2 separate regions of the Homo sapiens genome follow, and region 1 is linked to region 2. Evidence: fine-mapped expression QTL. Tissue or cell type: whole blood. Region 2 holds a variant in brackets; the other region holds the start of a gene. All regions are shown on one strand. Distances are from middle to middle.

Region 1 (8,098 bases), 65 kb before region 2:
GGAGGATGGCTTGAACCCTGGAGGTGGAGGTTGCAGTGATTGGAGATCGTGCCACTACATTCCAGCCTGGGCGACAGAGCAAGACTCTGTCACCAAAAAAAAAAAAAAAAAAAAAAAAAAAAAATGTGGCCAGGCATGGTAGCTCACACCTGTAATCCCAGCACTTTGGGAGGCTGAGCCAGGCGGATCACAAGGTCAAGAGATCGAAACCATCCTGGCCAACATGCAAAACACCATCTCTACTAAAATACAAAAAATGAGCTGGGTGTGGTGGTGTGCGCCTGTAGTCCCAGCTACTGGGGAGGCTGAGGCAGGGGAATCGCTTGAACCAGGGAGGCAGAGATTGCAGTGAGCCGAGATCGCGCCACTGCACTCCAGCCTGGTGACAGAGCGAGACTCCGTCTAAAAAAAAAAAAAAAAAAATATATATATATATATATATAATATATGTATATAATTTTACATGAAAGAAGGAAATAAATGGGTGCTTTTATTCAACAAATATTTATTGAGCACCTACTCTTGTGCCAGGCAGTCTTCTAGGTGCTAGGGTTGCAGCAGAAAACAAGACAGGCAGAGATCCCTGCCTTCAGAGGGAGCACAACATTTAAGATAAACATGCAAAATGCCTGATATGTTAGATGGGAAGATAAATGCCCTTAAAGAAAGTAAAGCAGGGACAGTGACATTTAGGAGTGAGGATGTTGCAACAATTTAAGATAGGTTGGTCAGGGGAGATTCATTGAAAAGTCCCATCTGAGTGAAAACCTAGAGGAGAGAATTGAAGCAGGCTGGTATCTGGGGGAGTTGTAGGCAGAGGGAATAGGAAATACAAAGGCCCTAAGGTGGGGAAACAGCAAGGAGTCAGGTGTGGGCAGAGCAGAAAGTTGGGGCTGCATGAGCAAAGGGCAGGGCCTGGCCCACATCTCGTAGAGCTTTGTAATATAACCACAACATGCAAGTGTACAATTTAACATTTTATTCCACATCCGATGGCAAAGAAAAATTGACTGCTACCAATATGGTAGTTTCTGACCTGTAGTTCCCTAAATAGAATTCTATAAGTTGTAATACACTTTACTACACATTATCAGAAAAAGACTAAAAGTTCTATTTAGTAACTCCAATTCTGACAGTTCTCATGTCTGGGCTAGAACAAGGGCATGGCAATGGCAGAACAGATGTCTTCTATTTTCTTTGCAGGATTTTCTTTTTTCAGAGGAAAGTACAGGTATGGGCCCACTCAAGTGGAGCTCCAGGTTAGGGGGTTCTGTCCTCACCCAGGCAGCACACAGGAGGGCAGAGGCCCCTCCTAAGGGTACTACAAACTTGGCTCTGATCCATGATTTCAGTTTCTGACAAACACAACATTCAGTGGGGGAAAGAAAATCAGGTATCTGAGAGCTTGCACACAGGCATTCTAGCAAAACCAAAAGCACCTACTGGCTACTTGATGTTAGTGTGAAGATTCTCATGAAATGGAGACAACCATTCTAGGGGTTGAGGTGGCCAGGGGGATGGAGCCTGAGCTGAGAGAACTAAGAAAACAAAAACAATACAACAAAAAGCTGTTCAGCCATGTGTTACCCACACTGGAGTTCTGTTTGCTCATTCTGGTGTGGAACCCAGGGCCCTGGTAAGGGAATGAGGGGACTTCAGGGCATTTGCTTGCCTCAGTGGAAGCAGGGAGGTAAGGGGTTAAGGTGGTGGTACAGCCTGCAGGGCCAGGAGTCTGAACTCCCTCCAGGAGGGGCCCGAGGGGTGTCTTTAGTGTGAGCCACACAAGGGTACAGAGCCCAGAAGAGCTCTGCTTAATATTCATATACTAAGCTTCCACAGACTAAATACACACACACACACACACACACACACACACTCACACACACTTTACTTCTCAAATCATGTACCACTTTCTACCAGATTCAAGAACACCAAGAAGTACTAAAGGGTATCCAACCGTCAAGAAAAAGTTTGACTCCCTCATTAGTTGTAACATACAAGTCTTCCCATTTCCTTACTTGTAAGATAGAGTAATGGACTGGGAAGCAGACAAGGCCCCTGAACAGCCTAGCATCTTACCTGATGCATAGGAGGTTCTTAATCATCTCCCTTCCTCTCCCTCATCCTAACGAAAAATACTAGATTGCTGTCAAATGCTATGGGTATACTTTAAATCAGTGCTTGTCAAACTTTAATGTGCAGCCCAATCAGCTGGGGGAATCCTGTTAAAATGCAGGTTCTGATTCAGTGGAGCTGGGGTGAGGGATAGGAATTATGCGTTCCTTACAGGCTTCCAGGTGATGCTACACTGCTGATTGGGGATCATTCTTTGAGTGGCAAGAATTTGACACTACTAAGTTTCATTACTTAACACAACCATCACATAAAAGCCCTCAAAAGGCACCAGTCTAAACAATAAGCCCTTCCACTTCAGCCTCATGCAGGCACTGACCCTGCCAAGTGTCCAGCACTAGAGAGGCCAGGCATAATAGACATATCCTTTGGTCTTGGGAGGATCACGACACCCTCCTACAGGAAGATCTTGCAATTGTTTCCTCACCTCTTCTGGTTTTTTGATCTTACCTTTTGCCTCTGATGATAATTACCCTTTAATTACCACCCACCACCTTGTCATCTAAATAATTATAGTAAGTGCAGCCTGCACCTCTGCCAGAAGATCTTTAAACAAAATGATAAAAACAAGTTCCTAAACTGCCAATTAAAAAAAGAGACAAAACTGACCCAAATAAAACAGTCATGTGCATCCCACCCACAGTGGAAGACATGGACTTGTTTTTCATATAAACTACAGAAGAAGTTGATTTATTTTGAAACAAGAAAAAGTACTGATTCAGTATTTAGGAAATTGTAAATGTCAGAATATAAATTCTGCAGTCAGGTAGGCAAAACAATCCAACCACACTAAAATCCACCTTAAATTCCTCTTGGGAAGAGCTGCAGGGTCTCTGAACTATTTTTCCTTTATTTGGAGTTTCCCCGATTATACCGGAGGGAGCTGGATAACTTCTGGGTGCATTAAAAGCAAATTATCCATTTGTGGGAGAAGGGCGGGCTTCTCACTGAAAGCAATTAGTAGTTTTCTAATTTCCCAGGTGGGTCTCCATTAACCGCCTAACAAACACCAAGGCTGTCGGAGTCCGACGAATCATGCACCTCTCTTAGGGGGAACTGGTTGCGCTACTCTTTAGAACGCTGTTTTCCCATGGTAGCCTTAAAAAAAACTTACCAATTTTCTGAATTAGGTAACACATTGAATGGGAAAAACCTAAGATAGCACAAAAAGGCGTACAGCGAAAAATTAAGACTCCTTCCTCCCGTCATCCGCCACCTCACTGTCCTCCCTAGAGGCAATCGCTGGTTCACTTCTTTAAACTTTTTATTATGGAAAATTTCAGATACACAAGTAAAGAGACTGTATGATGAGCACATATGCTCGCATCACGCAGCTTCAACGATGAAAAACGTTCTGCCAGCTTGTTTTATTCCTCTCCCCCAGTTTTCATAGGCGTATTTTACAGTCCTGACACCAGATCACTCTGTCAACACATCAGTAGGTCTTAAAAAAAAAAAAACAAAAAACCATAACCACATTACCGTTACCACACCCAACAAAGTTAATGATAATTGCTCAATACCATCCAATATTCTCGGGGCCACTTTCAATCGGTGAGGGGCAGACGGACTTAGAGGAAGGACTGCAGGGCTGGAGGGGCGCGAAAAAGCGAGGGGCGACGCTGCTCGTGGCCTCGGGTGTCCGGCGCCTCGCGGTCCCCGCCATCGTCACCTACGCCGGGCCAGGACCGACCAGGCCAGGTCGAGGGCGGCTCTTGACCACGCGCCCCCTGCCTCCCAGCTCCCGGGCGGCGGCCTCCGCAGGCCCGGCACAGCTGCACAGCCCGCGGTCCCCAGGCACCGGCGGGTCCCTGGAGGGGAAGCGATTGATACAGCTGCCTGCACTGCGCCACCCGCCCGGCTGCCCATCTCCGTGGCACCTGCGTCTCCCGGCTGGGCCGGGAGCTAGAAGTGGCTGCCGAGACCGGGAGGGCCCGGCCAGTCGCCCGCTCCCGCTCCCGCGCCTGGTCCTCGGCCCGCGACCTCGCGGACCTGGACTACAACTCCCGTCGGGCTCCGCGGCCGGGCCAATGGCGGGCGCCGGAGCATGCGGGGCGCAGCGCCTGCGCGGCGGTTTGAGTAAGCGGCTGCGCGATTGGCTGCGGGGTCGGGCGGCCGCGCGGGGACTGTGGGAAGCGGAGTGACGGAGCGAGCGGCTGTTGGAGGAAGGAGGTGGGGGCCGGGAGCGCAAATGGCGTTGAGATGGTTCAGGGCCCTGTTCAAACTCCAGCACTGACCATTCACCGGCGGAAGCGGCGGCGCAGGAGGCGGCGGCGGCCCAGCGGGGGCACACAGCAGGCTCTGTTACCAGCTCCAGCAGTGGCGGCCAGCGAGAGCTAGGCCTGGGCCCGGCCGGCGGCGCTCGAGGCGGGGAGGGAAGTTGCGGGGCCGCCGCTCCTGCCCCCCCAACCGGGCTTCCTATTTACCGAAAGCAGAGTCCCTCGCCTCTCTCGGCTCTCACCTGCCGGCCCTGCTCTCCCGCGCGAGGGTTCCGCGCCCGCCCGCGGGCCGTAGGGAGCGGGAGAGGCGGAGGCGGCCCGTGGCCAAAGCACCCGCCAGGCTCCGAGGGTAAGTGAGGTGTCGGGCGGCCGCCTAGGCCGGGAGGGAGCCGGGAGGGTGGGGGAGGCAGAGGCTGGGAGCGGGCGGTGGAAGTCTCACTGCCTCGCCCACCGGGCCGCTGAGGAAGTTGGGCAGGGGAATGACCTGAGGAACTCTTTTTTTCCCCTTTTATTTTCCTTTTTCGGAGTTCTTTTTCGGGCGACTGCTGATTGACTTAGCTCCCCAAACCCAGTCAAGTGTGTTGATTTCAGCCCCGAGTCCTTTCCCGTGGTTTCATCCGCCTCTGGCCGCCACTGGGGCCTTGCACTGCCTTAAGGATTCGGTGGCAGAGGCTTCCGGGGCGTCGAAAGTGACCTCCCTTTCCTGGGCGGCGCGGGTTGGGAGGAGAAAAGTTGCATTGAGTGTCTAGTCCGAGGGGTCCATCGCGCCCACTGCCCGTGGCGCCCCGGCTGTCCCCAGGTGAGGATTTCTGGTTAGTCAGGTTCGTCCCGTCCGCTTTCCATCTTTAATGGAAGCCCTTAAAGCCTTTGGGGATCGGGAAGACGCTAGATTAGGGTGGGAGTGAAGTATAAAGGCTTTTTGCTTTTTTTTTTTTTTTTTTTTTTTTAAATCACAGCGCACTTCTCTCAAAATTCGACCTGATTTTGGGCTAGGGCAAAAGCCGAACGACCGAAAAGACTTAGTCGTCAATCATTCTTTCCTTTTTAGTTAGGACAGTCTTTGGAGTTTAAAGGTTGAGCAAGATTGTGTACTTGAAACACTTAAAATTTAACTTCAAGGACGTCTGCACACTTATTTTGGAATCTGTAGTGCTTTACGCTTAGATAATGCCATTGCAAAGACATTTTATTGTGGGAAACGATAAAGGCAATCAGGAGGAGATATTATATAATGAACTTCTCTGTACCCATCGCTTGGATTTAGCAGTGACTATTAAACAAATTTATTTCATCTATACACTTCTCATTCCTTAATGTTGGAAAATCGCTGACGTTATTTCATCAGTATTTCACTATGTATTTGTAAAAGACGTGGTCTTTTGGCACAAAATTATTATTATCATTATTATTATTATTTTGAGACGGAGTTTCGCCCTTGTTGCCCAGGCTGGAGTGCAGTGGCGCGATCTCAGCTCACCGCAACCTCCGCCTCCCAGGTTCAATTGATTCTCCTGCCCCAGCCTCCGGAGTAGCTGGGATTACAGGCATGCGCCACCACGCCCGGCTAATTTTCTATTTTTAGTAGAAACGTGGTTTCTCCATGTTGGTCAGGCTGGTCTCGAACTCCTGGCCTCAGGTGATCTGCCCGTCTTGGCTTCCCAGAGTGCTGGAATTACAGGCGTGACCTGCCGCCCCCAGCCAGCACAAAATTATTTTTTATCACATAAAATAATTAAGTCCTTAGTGTCAGGTATTCATCTGAAGACTTCAAACTTTCAACAGTGAATGCTTTGTGGTTATAGAACCATTTTAACAGTTTTTCTGATGTTGGCATAAAGGAACTCAAGTCTAGATTTTTGGTTTGGCCTTTGGTTAGTATTTTTAGATGATTAGCACATAAGTGAATCCAAAACATTCCATCTTTGTTGGTGTGTATGTGTACGTACACTTACAGACCTGCAGGATCTCAGCTTTACATTCTTGAAGGAACAGAGAATCGATTTTTATTTTGTTGTCCGTGGTAGTTGCCCAGTATCCTGTTTTGTTTAGGCTGTACTTAACAAGAAAGACAGTAAGACTTGTTAGTGTTAGAGCTGCAGTGGAAGATGAAATACATCTCCTTCAGGAACACTGTTTTCTCTTAACGCAGATATGTATGATGACTAAATTATTACCTTGTCAAATTAAAATTGGGTTCTCACCAAACATGGGGGGGGGTCTACTACTGAATTTATATAAAACTCAGACAGTGACTCATTATAAATGGTAAGAATTTAAGTTAATCAAGGGAAAACAAGTGTAGATCAAAACATATTCAAAAGTATAGGTCAAATATAATTTCAATTCTTGTAGCTTTCAAAGTAATGATTTTTCATTCCTTAGGCCCTTGTTCACTTTTTAAAGTTATATTCGATGTATTCATGTTTGAACTGTAGAAAGGTCAAAGTGTTAGACAAACGGTTACTGATTGATCATGTTTAAAAAGTACTATAACTTTTTAATAGGCACAGAACTAATGCAAGTAACTTGTTTTAAAAAATGTTTGACTCTTGATTTACTGCCCTAAAGATTTTTTTTTTTGTCCTGTGAAGTAGATAAATCAGGTGAATCGATTTGCCATTTATAAATTGAAAAGGAAAATAAAAGTTGTATGTTTCTATGTCTGTATTAATCCATGAAACAGTGTAATATGCTGGAGCTCACTAGCCCCAGAAAATATAACTCAGCAAATGAGCACAGCACTATCGGGACAAGGCAGATAGGATAAGGATAGTTTCTTTCCCTAGGGAGATGACCATCTAAGGAACATTTTTAAAGTCACAGCGCAAATTACATTACACCAAGAAGCAGAATCTTCAAGATTGGGTTAAAAGCTGCAGGTTGTAAAACATGAGAAAAAGCACCATTTTGGGGACCTTTTTTCTCATGTGAATTAGTGCCATGAAATTTCAAAGAACTAAATTTAATCAAGTATTGGATATTTCTGAGGCCCTGAAAAAAACTAACATTCTGTGCTTAAGATTTTATATAAGTAATTACCCTATACAGGTTATCATTATATCACTGCAACCTCCATCTCCTGAGTTCAAGCGGTTCTTCTGCTCCAGCTTCTCAAGTAGCTGGGATTACAGGTGCGTGCCACCACTCCCAGCTAATTTTTGTATTTTTAGTAGAGATGGGGTTTCACCGTGTTGGGCAGGCTGGTCTCAAACTCCTGGCCTCAAGTGAGCTGCCTGCCTCGGCCTCCCAGCCTCTATACAGATAATTTTTTAAGGTAAAAATGATGTTTATAAGAATAGTAAATTAATTCATTTGGAACTTAATATGCTTCATTTTAAGTTAGCTTTATGGATATCGTATTATAAGTTGGTTAATCATTAAGTTTTTTTACTTTGTAAGTAGCGTAGGAATATGTACTCATTGTGGAGGAAAATTGACATGGAAGCATGTAGGGTAATAAATCAGCCTTTCTTTATACCCCTTCCTCATATTTGTTTATTTAAAAGTCTGTGTGGTGAGTGTCAAAAGTCATGAGGGAAGAATCCCTAGGTTTTTATTTTTATATGCACTGTTTAACACTTGTATTTGATGATTATATGTTTTCTTAAATTTTTTTTCACAGAGAATATGAAACTGGTGTCAAAATGACATCCAGATTTGGGAAAACATACAGTAGGAAAGGTGGAAATGGCAGTTCAAAATTCGATGAAGTCTTTTCCAACAAACGGACTACCCTTAGCACAAAA
Region 2 (8,104 bases):
CATAGCGTGTGTACAGATGGCTTCTAATGTTAGCTAAAAGTATTCTATTGGTAAGTATCGATGATAAATACTAACTTACGTTTGTTTCTTTTCACCTAGTAAAAGAATGTGTGGATCATTTAAGTAGAGATGAGGATGAAGAGAAACTGGTAGCCTCACTATGGGGAGCAGAGAGATGTTTACGAGTTTTAGAAAGTGTAAGTATGGATGACTATTTGGCAAAAATTATTCAGTCTTAATTGTGATTGTGTGTGTAAGAGAGAGACTGCCAAATATTTTATATACCCCTGGAGGTTCACTTCTGTTAATCCAGATAGAAATAGCAGTACATTTTTTGAGCAACCAGTTGTTAATAAACAAGCTAAATGAGTAGTTTTATATTTTAAGAGTACATGTATTATTGCTGCAAATGAAATGTTAGGCTTGTTTGTTTACATATGCCAATCTTTTTTAAAGATTTTATTATTTTTATTATTATTTTTTGAGCCAGAGTCTCACTCTGTCACCCAGGCTACAGTGCAGTGACATGATCTTAGCTCACTGCAACCTCTGCTTCCCGGGTTCAAGCAATTTCATGCCTCAGCCTCTTGAGTAGCTGGGATTATAGGCATGTGCCATCATGCCCTTCTGATTTTTGTATTTTTAGTAGAGTCGGGGTTTTGCCATGTTGGCCAGGCTGGTCTCAAACTCCTAGTTTCAAGTGGCCTGCCGGCTTCAGCCTCCCAAAGTATTGGGATTACAGGCGTTACACTTTGCTGGGCCCCTCCAATCTTTATTGTTTTTTCCTTAATGTGAATTTCTACTTGACTACATTGTTTGTAGATAACAATAGTGAAATGCAATCAGGTTTTATTTTTAAATTGTTATTAGCATTTTGTTTATTTGACTTTTATTTGAGTCAGATTGTTTATAGGCATGGCCTGTCATAATATTTGGCTTTGGAGAATGATACTGTTGAACTGCAGCGAGTATATTTTGTTCTTTGACTCTTACGAAAGACTTAACCCAGTTCCGTATAGATTAGAATTTATACTGCCAGCTAATTTCAGGATGCATAGGTTTGTTCACCAGGTTATTTTAAAAGTAGTATAGTATAAATTAAAAGCTCCTGGCATAGATTAAATTGTAGCGTTCCATGTGTCTTCTAGAGTGCTTTGGGCACAGTAGATAACAGATACTTCTTTGTAAAAATGTGTTCTAAATGAATCTACTTATGAACTTTACGTTATTTGTAAGTTGAGGACTGCTCTATTCTGACATTCAGTGTGTTTGGCAATTCGTTACAGTGAATATGTAGTGTAGAATATGTTAATTATGAATGAATATAACAGTGATGTCTTAATTTTTTCATAAAGCATTAGCTTTCTTATTTTACACCTGGAACCTGTAGGTTGTGAAATTATTCCCTTTGGTAACAAGGGCTGTTTCTTCCTCATCTTTGTATCTTTTACGCACCAGGCAGAATGTGGTGTTACATGAATGAATGAAAGTTTTGGATTGCCACAATTATTTCATATTCTTCCTTTTTAGGTAACTGTGCATAATCCCGAAAATCAAAGCTACTTGATAGCATATAAAGATTCCCAACTTATTGTTTCATCAGCTAAGTAAGTTTTTTGTTTATTAGTTAACAACTAACATTGTTACTTATTTTAAACATTTGGATTGACCATAAATGAAAGAAATTTGGATTAGCTTCCTCCATGAAATGCTCTGTTGAGTTCTGTGAATTGGTTCACATTGTGTAACAAAAGTTTTAAGAGTACAGATTTTGGACACAAAATGACAGTGTGGATTCCAGCTTGATAATTTCAGCTGTATAACTTTTGTAATGTACAAATCAAGCTCTTTACAAGGGGGATAATAATAGTGGCTAACCCACCTAGGATTTTTATTACAGTAAAATGAGTTAATTTGTATGTTTGTAAGAAATATATACATAGTAGATATTTAAAAATATGTGTATATTAAAAATACATATAAAAAATTTAAATTTAAATGATTTTTAAAGTATCTTTTGTATCATTTGTGATACATATTAATGAGTTAAATTAGTTAATGTGCAAAGCCTAGAACAGTACTTGGCGTATAGTAAATACTAAGCATTTTTCCTCATTCTTGTTTTAAATGGACTTTTCTCTGTTCTTCTGCACTTTATTTAGACCTGTTTTTCTATATCTGTATGTAGCTTCTTCCATTCCACATTTATTTCTTCCCACATTTCATCACAATTAGGCTAATGCTGTCACCTCCTTGCAGGTAAAATTCCCAAGTATGTCTCCAGTCCTGGTTCTGTCTTATTACAGCAACCTCTTCCTGATATCTCTGTCCTAGTTCTTGATATCTGCCCTAGTTCTCTGGCCTTTAGCCTATCCAGAACAATACCACATGGAGTTAACTTTCTCCAAATCGCTGCTTTGAAAAAATAATTTTAATTTCTCAAATCTCTGATTCCTTATTGTCTTTGGATATATGTACAACTTTCTTATTGAAGTCAGCCTTATCAAAGGCCCATTGCAGTCTTACTCTAGTTTATCTGTTTTTTAACCTCTTATTTTGGAGGAATTCAAATATAAATAGTGTAATAAACTGTAATGTACACATTATCAATCATGGCCAGTCTGGTTTCCATCTGTAACCTCATCCATTCCCTCTCCTGTATTATTTGAAACAGATCCAGATATTATTTCGTCCATAAATACTTAAGTACATAATGCCTAGAAGAAAAGGACTCTTTTAAAAAATATAACCCCAGTGCCATTTTCATGCCACACATTATTAGTTGCTTAATATTTTATGTTTAGTCAATATTCTAATTTTCAGTAGTCTCAAATTTCTAGTCTCAGTAGATTTTCTTAATCTGTAGGTTTTTAAAATCTCCTTTTTTTGTCTTGGATTTGTACGTTTTGTATCTTGCATTTGTATATTTTATTTTTCTTTATTTTATTTTATTTTTTTTTCTGAGCCCAGGCTGGAGTACAGTGGCATGATCTCGGCTCACTGCAACCTCTGCCTTCTGGATTCACATGATTCTCCTGCCTCAGCCTTCCGAATAGCTGGGACAACAGGTGTGCGCCACCACACTTGGCTAATTTTTGTATTTTTAGCAGAGACGGGGTTTCACCATGTTGACCAGGCTGGTCTCGAACTCCTGACCTCAGGTGATCCACCCGCCTTGGCCTCCCAAAGTGTTGGGATTACAGATGTGAGCCACCGTGCCTGGCCTATTTTATATATATTTAGCACTCTCTTTTTTTTTTTTTTTTTTAATAGATACAGGGTCTTGCTATGTTGTCCCAGCTGGTCTCAAACTCGTGGGCTTAAGTGATTCTCCTGCCTTGACCTCCCAAAATGTTGGGATTACAGGCATTAGCCACTGTGCATTGCCTGTATTTAGTGCTCTTACCGCATGCATTCTGGTTGTTTGCTACCATGTTTTTACCCTTCCTTACCAAAGATTATTGAAGTTAAATGTTTCTGATTTCATTTTCTTTTTTAAATTAAGAAAAATTGTGTATGTTGTTTCTGATTTAAAAATATCTCTTTTGTATACTTCATAACCTCTGACAACTACCTTGTAAGAGGAAGTATTTGATATGACAGGTGCTCTTTTGTTGTGATTAGGAAATTCAGGCCAAATGTCTTGGAAGTGGCAGTAGAGGTCAGAATTGAGTGTTTGTAAAAGAGCACTTATCTCTAGGTTTTTAAGCTTTTCAGCAGAAACCATGATCAATTCGGAGATAGCATACAGAAAGATTAAATAACATATGCTGAACCTCCTTTTGTCTTCAAAGCCCCAGTTTAGCCCAGCCTGAAAACAGTTGAGTTACCAGTGACAGTATGGTAATCCTGACCAGCATTCAATACCAGAAGAACAAATTATTTTAGGTTAGACATGAGGAACACCTTCCTGACCAAAGGGTTGTAAAATATTAAGAACTTTTACAGAA[C/T]TTCCTCAGTATGTTTTAAAGGGCAACTAGGCGTAGATTAGATACGGTTTCTTTAAGAATTTTGTGTGATATATAATGCATGAAGAATCAACTGACAGAGTGAGCTTACTTGATTTGTATTAAACTTAAAAATCGTGGACTTGGTGATTTAAATAGTGTCTTTAGAAATACTAGACCCATTAGGGATTATATTTCCTTGTTATTTTGGGTAGTATCTTGAGAATCCTTTTTTTTTTTTTTTGGTATCATAAAGTTTTTAATGACACACACATTTTGTCCTTTACCTTACAAATATTTCTTTGGGTTTTATTCTGATCATCATGCAATATACAGAATAGTTTCTTGCCATTACCTTATTAGGGTAGAACCACCTTTGCAACTTTGGACACCATTTAGTAGACGTGAAATGGAATATAGAAAGATAGAATGCTTGAACAAAACCTCTCAGTGCTAGCTGCCTTAACTAAGGTCCTTCTCTCAGCTTAGTACCCCTGTGACAGCTTGCAAGACACTCTGACTTTGTTTTATTGTGCTTATGTAGTCAGATTATGAGGCTGATCATTGAGTGTCCATCAGACTCTACATTATTGATTCCTCTCTCAAGTTGCCCCAATATCCTTTGTGGCCAGAGGAAGAGAAAAACATTCAACTAGTAAATCCAATTTCTCTTGCGAAAAAGACTCATAGTTCTGATAAAGAGTCATTTCAATACCTGTTTCACCATTTAGAAAACATGTTTCTGTTTGTATAGCACCTCTGGGAACCTAATGCAGTAATATCGCCTTCTTTTCCATTTGTCCCTGATCTAGATGCTATATTTTTTATGCAACCCACCTGCTGTTAAGTATTTTACAATTATAGATTTACGCTCTATCTTTTATTCTGTCCCATCTCACCCTGCTAGCAAATTTTTATTTGTTTTCTTTTTTTCTTTTTTTTTCTTTCTTTCTTTTTTTTTTTTTAGTATTTATTGATCATTCTTGGGTGTTTCTCGGAGAGGGGGATTTGGCAGGGTCATAGGACGATAGTGGAGGGAAGGTCAGCAGATAAACATGTGAACAAGGGTCTCTGGTTTTCCTAGGCAGAGGACCCTGCGGCCTTCCTTGTGTTTGTGTCCCTGGGTACTTGAGATTAAGGAGTGGTGATGACTCTTAACGAGCATGCTGCCTTCAAGCATCTGTTTAACAAAGCACATCTTGCACTGCCCTTAATCCATTTAACCCTGAGTGGACACAGCACATGTTTCAGAGAGCACGGGGTTGGGGGTAAGTTTGCAGATTAACAGCATCCCAAGGCAGAAGAATTTTTCTTAGTACAGAACAAAATGGAGTCTCCTATGTCTACTTCTTTCTACACAGACACAATAACAATCTGATTTTCTTTTCCCCACATTTCCCCCTTTTCTGTTCGACAAAACTGCCATCGTCATCATGGCCCGTTCTCAGTGAGCTGTTGGGTACACCTCCCAGACGGGGTGGCGGCCGGGCAGAGGGGCTCCTCACTTCCCAGACGGGGTGGCCGGGCAGAGGCACCCCCCCACCTCCTGGACGGGGCGGCTGCCGGGCGGGGGCTGCCCCCCACCTCCCTCCCGGACGGGGCGGCTGGCCGGGCGGGGGCTGCCCCCCACCTCCCGGACGGGGTGGCTGCCGGGCGGAGACGCTCCTCACTTCCCAGACCGGGCGGCTGCCGGGCGGAGGGGCTCCTCACTTCTCAGACGGGGTGGCCGGGCAGAGACGCTCCTCACCTCCCAGACGGGGTGGCGGTCGGGCAGAGACACTCCTCAGTTCCCAGACGGGGTCGCGGCCGGGCAGAGGTGCTCCCCACATCTCAGACGATGGGCGGCCGGGCAGAGACGCTCGTCACTTCCCAGACGGGATGGCGGCTGGGAAGAGGCACTCCTCACTTCCCAGGCTGGGCGGCCGGGCAGAGGGCCTCCTCACATCCCAGACGATGGGCGGCCAGGCAGAGACGCTCCTCACTTCCCAGACAGGGTGGCGGCTGGGCAGAGGCTGCAGTCTCCGCACTTTGGGAGGCCAAGGCAGGCGGCTGGGAGGTGGAGGTTGTAGCGAGCCAAGATCACGCCACTGCACTCCAGCAAAAACCAGTCAGGTGTGGCGGCGCCCGCCTGCAGTCCCAGGCACTAGGCAGGCTGAGGCAGGAGAATCAGGCAGGGAGGTTGCAGTGAGCCGAGATGGCGGCAGTACAGTCCAGCCTCGGCTTGGCATCAGAGGGAGACCGTGGAGAGAGAGGGAGAGGGAGATTGTGGAGGGAGAGGGAGAGGGAGAGCGAGAATCCTTAGATGTAGCTCATCCCCTTGGAAAATTGTCGAGGAGACATGTCAATTTGAATGAACTTAAATTAAAAAATAATGATTTATACTGTCAACGTTGGTAGTGAAGGTAATAAAAATAATGATTTGCTCTAATGCGTATGAAATATTTAATACTTGTCTTTACATTAACATTTGTTATGTAGTAATAACATTTACTACCTCAGAAGTGTCCAACATTAGCTGTTAACCATTTGCCCTGTTTGAGAAAGGGTTGTGGTCTGTCTCTTATATTGGAGAGATCAATAACATGCGAGACAATTTGGAAATAAAGAGATTACTAGTGGTAAATGTAGATAGTACAGATATAAACTTCTGCCATAAGTTTTTAATTTTAACATTCCTTGAATAAGTTTTTTAAGGTATCAGATTTTTCCAAAATAAAGTGAAATTTCATCCGATAGCCTTTAGGTTCAAGTAAATAGAAATTTGCTGTGTACCTATTATTATTTACTATAATAGTCTATATTTTATTTCCTTTTAAGAGCATTACAGCATTGTGAAGAACTGATTCAGCAGTACAACCGTGCTGAGGACAGCATATGCTTAGCTGACAGTAAGCCTCTGCCTCACCAGAATGTAACTAACCATGTAGGCAAAGCAGTGGAGGACTGCATGAGGGCCATCATCGGGGTGTTGCTTAATTTAACTAATGATAATGGTAAGATTTTTTTCCATTTTTTTCTCATTGAAAGATGTATATTGCATGTGAAAACAAGTTATTTTTGTTTCTCCTTTTCCTGGGGTAGTGATTTTTTTATTTGTCATAATGTACTTGACTTACTCATGTGTAGGTTTAAATTGCTTTTAAGAGTTGATATTTTTAGAAGCCTAGTAGCTTGACCCAGAAGTATCAATAGTATGTTTCAATAGAGGAATGACTATACAATTCTAAGTTAATATCCATGTTAATAAATCTCCATTATTAGTGTTCTAAGGAAGAATCAGTAACCATTTTCCTGTATCCATTTCTTATTTCAGAGTGGGGCAGCACCAAAACAGGAGAGCAGGACGGTCTCATAGGCACAGCGCTGAACTGTGTGCTTCAGGTTCCAAAGTACCTACCTCAGGAGCAGAGATTTGATATTCGAGTGCTGGTAAGTTGAAATGACTTTTTCAGAAATGAGTATCATATCTAATAAGGTGTGCAAAATGTTAACCTTAGTTTGGGTTTAAGAACCAACCCTTTAATATATTGTGGGTTTTTTTTCATGAATTTCCTTATGAACTTACTGTGTGTGTTTCTTTTTTTTTTTTTTTTTTTTTTTTTTTTTTTTTTTTTTTTTTTTTTTTTTTTTTGGGAGATGGAGTCTACAGTGGCAACATCTTGGCTCACTGCAACCTCCGCCTCCCTGGTTCAAGCAGTTCTCCTGCCTCAGCCTTCCAGGTGCTGGGACTGTAGGCATGTGCCACCACGCCTGGCTAATTTTTGTATTTTTAGTAGAGACGGGGTTTTGCCATGTTGCCAAGGCTGGTTTCAAACTCCTGGCCTCAAGTGATCTGCCCGCCTCAGCCTCCCAAAGTGGTGGGATTACAGGTATGAGCTATTGCGTCTGGCTGAACGTACTTCTTATTGTGCAAAAGAAAGCCATGAAAAGACCCTATGTAAAAATAAAAAGTACGAAAGCTAAAATTGGCAATTAAAAATAAAAGGAATGATTCTTTGGGAAAATCGGTGGTTTTTTTGTTTTGTTTTTTTTGTTCTTTTTTTGTTTGTTTTTGAGATGGAGTCTCACTCACTCTCTTGCCCAGGCTGGAGTGCAGTGGCACAGTCTCGGCTCACTGCAACCTCCATCTCCTGGGTTCAAGCTATTCTCCTGCCTCA

What was found. PIP is the estimated chance that this variant, and not a neighbour inherited with it, causes the effect.
Region 1: it holds the start of WAPL, and the variant in region 2 is fine-mapped to the expression of WAPL in whole blood (INTERVAL, PIP above 0.99).

What each region holds. Positions count from the first base shown.
Region 1 is chr10:86,517,968-86,526,065 of GRCh38, reverse strand. It overlaps WAPL (WAPL cohesin release factor), which reads left to right and starts at 4,274. Exons shown (of 19, transcript NM_015045.5): 1 at 4,274-4,701; 2 at 7,975-8,098. The coding sequence starts at 7,997. WAPL-DT (WAPL divergent transcript) reads right to left here and starts at 4,119. Exons shown (of 2, transcript NR_186498.1): 1 at 3,657-4,119; 2 at 965-3,557. RefSeq lists silencers at 3,661-4,220, 4,361-4,780.
Region 2 is chr10:86,452,492-86,460,595 of GRCh38, reverse strand. It overlaps WAPL (WAPL cohesin release factor), which reads left to right. Exons shown (of 19, transcript NM_015045.5): 11 at 100-197; 12 at 1,531-1,607; 13 at 6,765-6,940; 14 at 7,261-7,376. Among named protein-coding and RNA genes, the nearest start is that of WAPL, 65 kb to the left of the region's middle. The variant C/T (reference allele first, on the strand shown) is at 3,951.